Homo sapiens: one gene and its partner. The protein of the gene in region 1 interacts with the protein of each later gene in a pairwise test. Each region holds a gene or a part of one and is shown in the gene's direction. Other genes may lie near its edges. The genes, in order: SOX18 and GKAP1.

What was found.
Region 2: the proteins of SOX18 (region 1) and GKAP1 interact in a two-hybrid assay, tested with the Homo sapiens proteins (one large-scale study listed by BioGRID and IntAct).

Annotation. Positions count from the first base shown.
Region 1 is NC_000020.11:64,046,990-64,051,326, reverse strand, and holds SOX18 (transcription factor SOX-18), read left to right. Parts: upstream 1-1,687; 5' UTR 1,688-1,810; coding exon 1,811-2,168; intron 2,169-2,364; coding exon 2,365-3,161; 3' UTR 3,162-3,745; downstream 3,746-4,337.
Region 2 is NC_000009.12:83,811,231-83,815,041, reverse strand, and holds part of GKAP1 (G kinase-anchoring protein 1), read left to right. Parts: intron 1-3,811. UniProt on the Homo sapiens protein: Regulates insulin-dependent IRS1 tyrosine phosphorylation in adipocytes by modulating the availability of IRS1 to IR tyrosine kinase. Its association with IRS1 is required for insulin-induced translocation of SLC2A4 to the cell membrane.

The DNA of each region.
Region 1 (4,337 bases):
CTGCCAGCTGCCCAGGAGGCCCACCCACACTGAGACTCGGCCAAGGGTCCAGCCACCCATACTGAGATTAAAGGAGGACTAGCAGCATCCGGCAGAGGCCTGTGAGCCCCTCCATCCCTGTGGCCACAACCCTGCCTGCCTCCCCAGAAAAGCCAGGGGCCGCACCTCCTGGTGCCCCACGGGCCCCCCATTAGCCAGCACTGGCTCAGTGTCTGTGAACGAGGTGCTAGGCCCGTGGGGCAAACTGGAGGGACGGGAGATCTGGAGACCAGACTGGGAGACCCAGCCCCGTATGCTGGGACGATGGGCGTCGAGACAGACTGTGATGTGGGGCTTTGGGGAGGGCTGGACACCGACCGCGACAGCCCTCGGTGGGAGTGCCCCTGTGGGGGTGCTGGCCTCAGGGCAGGAGTGCCCCTGGGGACAGTTCAGGAACAGCCTCTAAGGGGCACTGCAAGGCCCACGTGGGGCCCACCCCATTCATAACACAGGCTGGATGTGGCCTAGCGAGGCTGGCAGGGACAGAGAACCAAGAGCTTCTGGCCACACAGGCTCAGGGTCACAAGACCTGTGGCCTCTACCCATGGGGCTCCCGGCATAGTGTGGCGGGGGGAGCTGGGGAGCCTCCAGGCTATGAGGAGATGTGCCGCGAGGTGGCGAGATTCTGACCCTGCCTGGAGGGCTGCTGGGGACACCCAACCCTTCTCCAGTAGAACCATGCGTGGCAGTGGGAGGGGAGGACCTCCAGAGGGAGACCCTCAGCTCTGGAGCCCAGATCCCCTCCTGATGGAGTAGGAAGGGGACAGTGAAAATTCAGGAAGCTGGACGCTCCTCCGGAACCCGCCCCCGCCCAGGTCAGAGGGTCCAGGGAGGGGCCAGTGGGAAGGACCCAGGTAGGCCCTGCCTCTTGCTGCAGCGGTGGCCTGGGCTGGGCAGGGGAGCCAGCAAGCCACTGAGGGTCCCAGCCCCTTCCCCAAGGGCCCTTGGGGGGCAGGGAGGACGCCACAGCCTCTGCGTCCCTGCTCCCCCTTCTCTTTGTGGGCTCCGTCCAGGGCCTCTGCTCTCTCCCTCCCTGTGTCAGCTTTGCCTTGTGCCAGAGTTGGTTTGGGAGTGAGGACAGAAGACCATCTTGTCCCATAAAGGCACTCAAAGTCCCTGGTGCTGACGGTTACACATGGGTGTAGAGTTTCCAGCATGGGCGCCCCTGGGGACTCAGAGCGCCTCCCCAAAGACGGGGCCTTTTCTGAAGGCGCTGCACTCCAGGAAGGACTTACCGGCTGTTGGGAAGGCAGCCTCCCCAGAACTTGGTGTGAAAAAGGGCCCTCTCCTCCCCATGGAGCCTCCCAGCGGGGGGCGGGGAACGGCAACCAGCGGGACACTGCCGCCCTCCCCCAGTTACTGCCCGGGGGTCCGACTCCGTGGGTGGGTGGCAGCTCGCCTCCGAAAGTCTGGCAGCACCGGCCCTCATCAGCAGCCCTTTCTTTCCCACCCGGGGGGTCTCTCCTTCTGAGAGGTCGCGGGGGAGGTGGGGGGGCTGTGCGCGGGGGAGGCCTCAGCGGAATCCCGCCCGGCCTGAGAAGAAAGGGAGCCCCCGGGGAGGAGGCGGCCCCGACCCGCCCCCGCCCGCCCGCCCCGCCGCCGATTGGCCCTGAGCCGCTATATCTGGGCGCCCGCCCGGCCCGAGGCCACCGCCGTCCCCACCGCCATCCGCCCTCCCGGCCTGGCCTGCCCTTGCGCCCGGCTCCCCAGTGCCCGCCGCCCGCCCGCCGCGCTCCCGCGCTCCGTTCCGCCCAGGCCGCGCCCAGCTGGAATGCAGAGATCGCCGCCCGGCTACGGCGCACAGGACGACCCGCCCGCCCGCCGCGACTGTGCATGGGCCCCGGGACACGGGGCCGCCGCTGACACGCGCGGCCTCGCCGCCGGCCCCGCCGCCCTCGCCGCGCCCGCCGCGCCCGCCTCGCCGCCCAGCCCGCAGCGCAGTCCCCCGCGCAGCCCCGAGCCGGGGCGCTATGGCCTCAGCCCGGCCGGCCGCGGGGAACGCCAGGCGGCAGACGAGTCGCGCATCCGGCGGCCCATGAACGCCTTCATGGTGTGGGCAAAGGACGAGCGCAAGCGGCTGGCTCAGCAGAACCCGGACCTGCACAACGCGGTGCTCAGCAAGATGCTGGGTGAGCGGCGGGAGGGCGGCAGAGAAGGGGGAGAGGGCGGGGGGGGCTCGGGCCGGGGTGGGGCGGGGGGGGCAGGGGTCCCGGGCCGCGGGGTGCGGGGGCTGCGCCAAACCCTCGCGGGGCGTCCCGGGCGCACGGAGGGCTCGGCGCCCACCCGCCCGACGGCGTTCCACTCACTGGCGCCCACGGCCCGCAGGCAAAGCGTGGAAGGAGCTGAACGCGGCGGAGAAGCGGCCCTTCGTGGAGGAAGCCGAACGGCTGCGCGTGCAGCACTTGCGCGACCACCCCAACTACAAGTACCGGCCGCGCCGCAAGAAGCAGGCGCGCAAGGCCCGGCGGCTGGAGCCCGGCCTCCTGCTCCCGGGATTAGCGCCCCCGCAGCCACCGCCCGAGCCTTTCCCCGCGGCGTCTGGCTCGGCTCGCGCCTTCCGCGAGCTGCCCCCGCTGGGCGCCGAGTTCGACGGCCTGGGGCTGCCCACGCCCGAGCGCTCGCCTCTGGACGGCCTGGAGCCCGGCGAGGCTGCCTTCTTCCCACCGCCCGCGGCGCCCGAGGACTGCGCGCTGCGGCCCTTCCGCGCGCCCTACGCGCCCACCGAGTTGTCGCGGGACCCCGGCGGTTGCTACGGGGCTCCCCTGGCGGAGGCGCTCAGGACCGCGCCCCCCGCGGCGCCGCTCGCTGGCCTGTACTACGGCACCCTGGGCACGCCCGGCCCGTACCCCGGCCCGCTGTCGCCGCCGCCCGAGGCCCCGCCGCTGGAGAGCGCCGAGCCGCTGGGGCCCGCCGCCGATCTGTGGGCCGACGTGGACCTCACCGAGTTCGACCAGTACCTCAACTGCAGCCGGACTCGGCCCGACGCCCCCGGGCTCCCGTACCACGTGGCACTGGCCAAACTGGGCCCGCGCGCCATGTCCTGCCCAGAGGAGAGCAGCCTGATCTCCGCGCTGTCGGACGCCAGCAGCGCGGTCTATTACAGCGCGTGCATCTCCGGCTAGGCCGCCGGCGCCGCCCGGGTCCCTGCAGCGCTTCCTCCCGCAGCCCCCGCGACCGATCCGACCGCGTCGCTGCCGCTCTGCTCTCTCATACGCGTGTATGTTTGGTTCCATGTCACAGCCCCCTAGGAGCCAGTGATGCTCGGCCTTGCGCCCGTTCCACCTCCCAGGCCACCCTTCCTGGGCTTCTGGGCCACCTGCCCTCGGGGGGCCCCTGCGAGGGTGCCTGGAGTTCCCACGTGTCCCGGGGCTTTTCCAGGAAGCCCGAGCCCAGGACCTGTTGGCAGAGTTGCCAGGGTTACATTTTTGAAGCACCTGCTCCTTTTCTTGCAGTGTATTTTCTACAACCAGATTGTATTAATATTTTTTACTTTGCCCTTTTAAAAAATATACCTAATACAATATATTTAATTTTTAATTAAACTCTTAAACTTTTCTTCCAAGAAGTTTCAGTGATCAGAAGCGTCACTGTGGCAAAGACTTTTGCAATGTGAGGAATACAGATGTTTGCTTTCTATAAAGGAGGAGCCTGGAGCTGGGTCCCCGGACGGAGAGGCCACAATAAATCCTCGGGCCTTTCCTCTGCACACTGACATCTGTGGTGTTTGCAGGGAGGGAAAAGCAGTTCCCCAAATAGCCCTGGACGCCCCTTCCCTCCGAATCGCCCCCAGGGAGCCTGACTCCTAGCTTGAACCTCATAGCACTCCTTCATCCTTCCGTGACACATCCCAGAGAGCGTGGGTAGCAGGCATGGGTCCACACTCCCCCCCAGCCCTCCACTCCCCTCCTGTCCCACCCCCAGGTTAACTCAAGCCTATCGGAGGTCAGACTATACCAGCAATCCTGTCACACCCCCGCTAGGGTTTCATCGCCCTTGCCTCCACCTTAAAACTTCCATGCCCAAGGACTGCCCAGTACGGCCCCCTTTCCTGAGGGAGGCTGGCAGGTTGGCAGCCCACATGCAGACACAGACTCCAGGGTCTCCGTCAGCTGTTCTAACTCACCCCAGGGAGGACAGCACCATGCTACACCCACAGCGCTCCCCCCACCCGGGTGACCTGTCCAGCTCTGCCCAGAGACAGGTCCGATGGCCAAGGCAGGAGAGCACAGGCTTCACATCCCAAGACCCCCCAACTCTGGAGTCGTATCTCACTAGCCCCCAGGAGGACTGGACACCCT
Region 2 (3,811 bases), on another chromosome or scaffold:
CGCCACCATGCCCAGCTAGTTTTTGTATTTTTAGTAGAGATGGGGTTTCACTACGTTGGCCAGGATGGTCTCGATCTCTTGACCTTGTGATCCACCCGCCTTGGCCTCCCAAAGTGCTGGGATTACAGGCGTGAGCCACCATGCCCGGCTGGCTTAAATCAACACTTTAAAACCAGATATGCTTCCTAGACAAAATTGGTTGTGGCAATTAGTTTGTTAGAATAGTACTTACCGTAATGAAACAACTTTGAACTGCTAATAATTGCTCATGCACATCTGCGTTATGGGAATTGAGGATTGTCTATTGTGCACTTCACATATTTCTTTTTCTACTTGTAGAGCACATTTTTCACTGCATAGACAGCTGTGTACTTGAAGAATGTAAACATGAAGAAAACACTAAGTTCAATAAATGTGTCTTCTATGTGCCAGATCCTGTGGTATTTGTAAGGGATAGAAACTCTTGTCTTTCAGGATCTTGAAATCAGGATCATAGGGGCTAGGCACAACAATAAAGAGAATTTTTTTGGAGTCCATTCAATAATAGTAAGTTTAAAGTATGGAAATATTACAGAGGAGGGAATGTTTAACTTCAGGAACAGGTCAGAGAACGCTTCATAGATATGCTAGCACCTGAGCAGGATTTTGAGGAATAAATGGAAGTTTTCAGTGGAAGAGATAGATGGCATTGTAGACAAAAGAGAACAGCATAGTTAAAGATATGAACAAGTAAACTAATTGTGTGTTCAAGAAATTTCAAGTTGTTTTTTCTTGGAGTACATGCAAAATCTGAAGAAAGAGGGTTGCTAGAGAAAGCCCTAACGCATGCTATTACATTTAATAAGTCAAATAATTGGCTTTTTGGGTATGAAGTATATGTAAAATAAAGACTTTGTTATATTTTTGACATTGCTGCCATCTTTTTTTTTTCTTTTTCTTCTTTGACAAAGGGTCTCAGGCTGTAACCCAAGGTGTAGTGCAGTGGCACAATCACTGCTCACTACAGCCTCGACCCCCAGGCTCAGGTGATCCTACCACCTTAGCCTCCCAAGTAGCTGGGACCACAGTCATGCACCACTATGCCTGCTAACTGTTGTACATTTTGTAGAGAAGGGGTTTTGCCATGTTTCCCTAGCTGATCTTGAACTCCTGGGCTCAAGCAATCTGCCCACCTCAGCCCTTCCAAAGTACCAGGATTACAGGTGTGAACCACCATGTGTGGCCTGCTGCCATCTTAAGTATAAATTAATAGTTTGTACTAGTGGTAGTCATTACATTATGGAAGATAGTAGAAGATATATTTATTTATGGTGAACTGCCTGCATATTGAGAATGTGTGTTTATTTCACATTTTGCCCTGAAACATTTCTGTTTTTAAAATTATCGTGTGAATTTATTTTGTCTTCCTTCAACTATACATTATCCTTGAAATTAGTTTTATCATTTATTTTATGAGATACGGTTTTGCTATGTTGCCTGGGCTGGTCCCAAACTCCTGGACTTAAGTGATCTCCTGCTTCAGTCTCCCAAGTTGCTGAAATTACAGGTGTGCACCACTGAGCCCAGATATCCTTGAAATTATTTTTAAAAGGAACTCAAAGGGAGGAGGGGAAAAATATAAATAAAATAATCATTAGATTTCTGCACCAAAAACCTGATTTGTGTAGTAGTTTAATAATATGTAAATGTTTAATATACAGTATTAGCCACCATATTCATAGACTAATTTAAGTAACTTAATTGGCAGTCCATTGTATTTTCATTTGCATTGTATGGCTTAATTATATTATGTGTATATAAATGTCTAAGCATAGAAGCATCTAAATTTTAAAGACCAAGTGTATTTGAAGGAGAAAAAGTATAGAGAGGGAGGGAGAAGAGCTGTGTTTGAATCTATTTATCCTAACATCTCTTAGATGTGACTGTATGTGGAGATGCAGAAGTTTAGGACACAAGACTGAAGGAATACTAACCCTAGCCATGACCTGAAATATAGTATCTTTTAAAAGCCTAATGTTTTCCTAGTCTCCCTATTTGTTTCTTCTTATCAAGATTAAAAAAAAAGTTACAGAGGAATTCCTGGATTGCATAACATGACTATCTTTTTGAAAATTCTGAAAAATTAGTTAACGAGGGTAGTGTTCTCTTAAAAGTATGCAACATATTAGTCTTCGATAGTTGCTCTCTGTCGTTTGACTTGTCTGTCACTGATGTGAATGGCCAAAGGCGTCTCATTGTCAATTCTGACCTGTAGTTGCCCTTTCTAAATTTTGACACAGGGCAAAAAAATCAATATTGTATTGATTACATTATGCTTAACTTTTTCAACTTGAGTATAGATAACCATTTTTTCTTTTTGAGGTTGTTTTTCTTTTTTTTTTTTAGAACTAATATCATTGTAGAGCCGGGCATGGTGGCTCATTCCTGTAATCCCAGCACTTTGGGAGGCTGAGGTAGGAGGATTGCTTGAGCCTAGGGGTTCAAGACCAGCCTGGGCAACATGGCAAAACCCTGTCTCTGCAAAAAATTAGCCAGGCATGGTGTCACGTGCCTGTAGTCCCAGCTACTCTGGAGGCCGAGGTGGGAGAATCACCTGAGACCAGGAAGTTGAGGCTGCAGTGAGCCGTGATCACACCACTGCTCCAGCCTTGGTGTGTGAGTAAGACCCTGTCTAAAAAAAAATATATATATATATACGTGTATATATATACGTGTGTATATATACATATATATGTATACGTATATATATACGTATATATGTGTATATATATGTGTATATATACGTATACATATATACGTATATATGTATACATGTGTGTGTGTATGTATGTATGTGTATATATATGTGTATATATATATTTATATAGTCATTGTAGAATATTTGGGGAAATAGTAAAAACCATAGAAAGGAAAATAAGCATAGTGAGTAATCCCATGCATTTCTTTCTTCATTTTGGTATGTGTATGAATAATAGACATATTTACAAATTGGGGATTATTTTCATGTTAAGTTTTATTCCCTTCTTTCATTTAAAATTACATTTCCTTCTCTTCTACTTCTGAAGTACTGGTCGTTGTACCTTTTGACATAGTATGTAGATTTCTGTCAAGGCTGTTGCAGTAGATGATGTGTTGATATGTTGGCTATTTTTTTTTTTAAGTATAGCATAGCACAGATGATTGAACTCTTCCAGTTGTTTCATCTCCTATCCCCTTAGCTGCAGATTAAGTAGTGCTATTTTTTGTCTTTAATATTTACTGTTATGTAAAGTCTAATATAATGGGAAGTGGCTGCCACTGTCTTACTCTTTTTGCACTTTACCCTGATCAAACAAGAGGTCATTAAAGGGGCATTTCCCCCTTTCCATTTTAGCTTTTCAGAAGTAACCTTCTGACAGAAGTACCCTTTCAGACATGTTAACACATAGGTTGCTGATGTGACATAGCACAGGTAGCTGCTTTACCAGAAAAATAATTTTGTCTTTTGAGTGTTTGTCATTGGTTCTTTTCTTGATTAACAGTATTTGTCATAATACTTTCTGTTTGCTTTGTGTTTGTTTTGTTACTTCTTTTCATTCATTCAAGAAACGTTTAATATCTATTGTATGCCCACTATTTAAGATATAGTCTCAACTGTGACTCTTGGGTTTCTGGTAGATAGGTATTTTCCTTCCGTAGTATGTTATGTGTAATCTTTAGGTCTTTGACTCTTTTCAGTGGCTGACCACTCACCTACTACTCAATGCCTAAAAACTTTTTTATTTCAAAGATTAAAGCCTTAGCTTGTATAGGGGCCAGATGTTGATAAAGT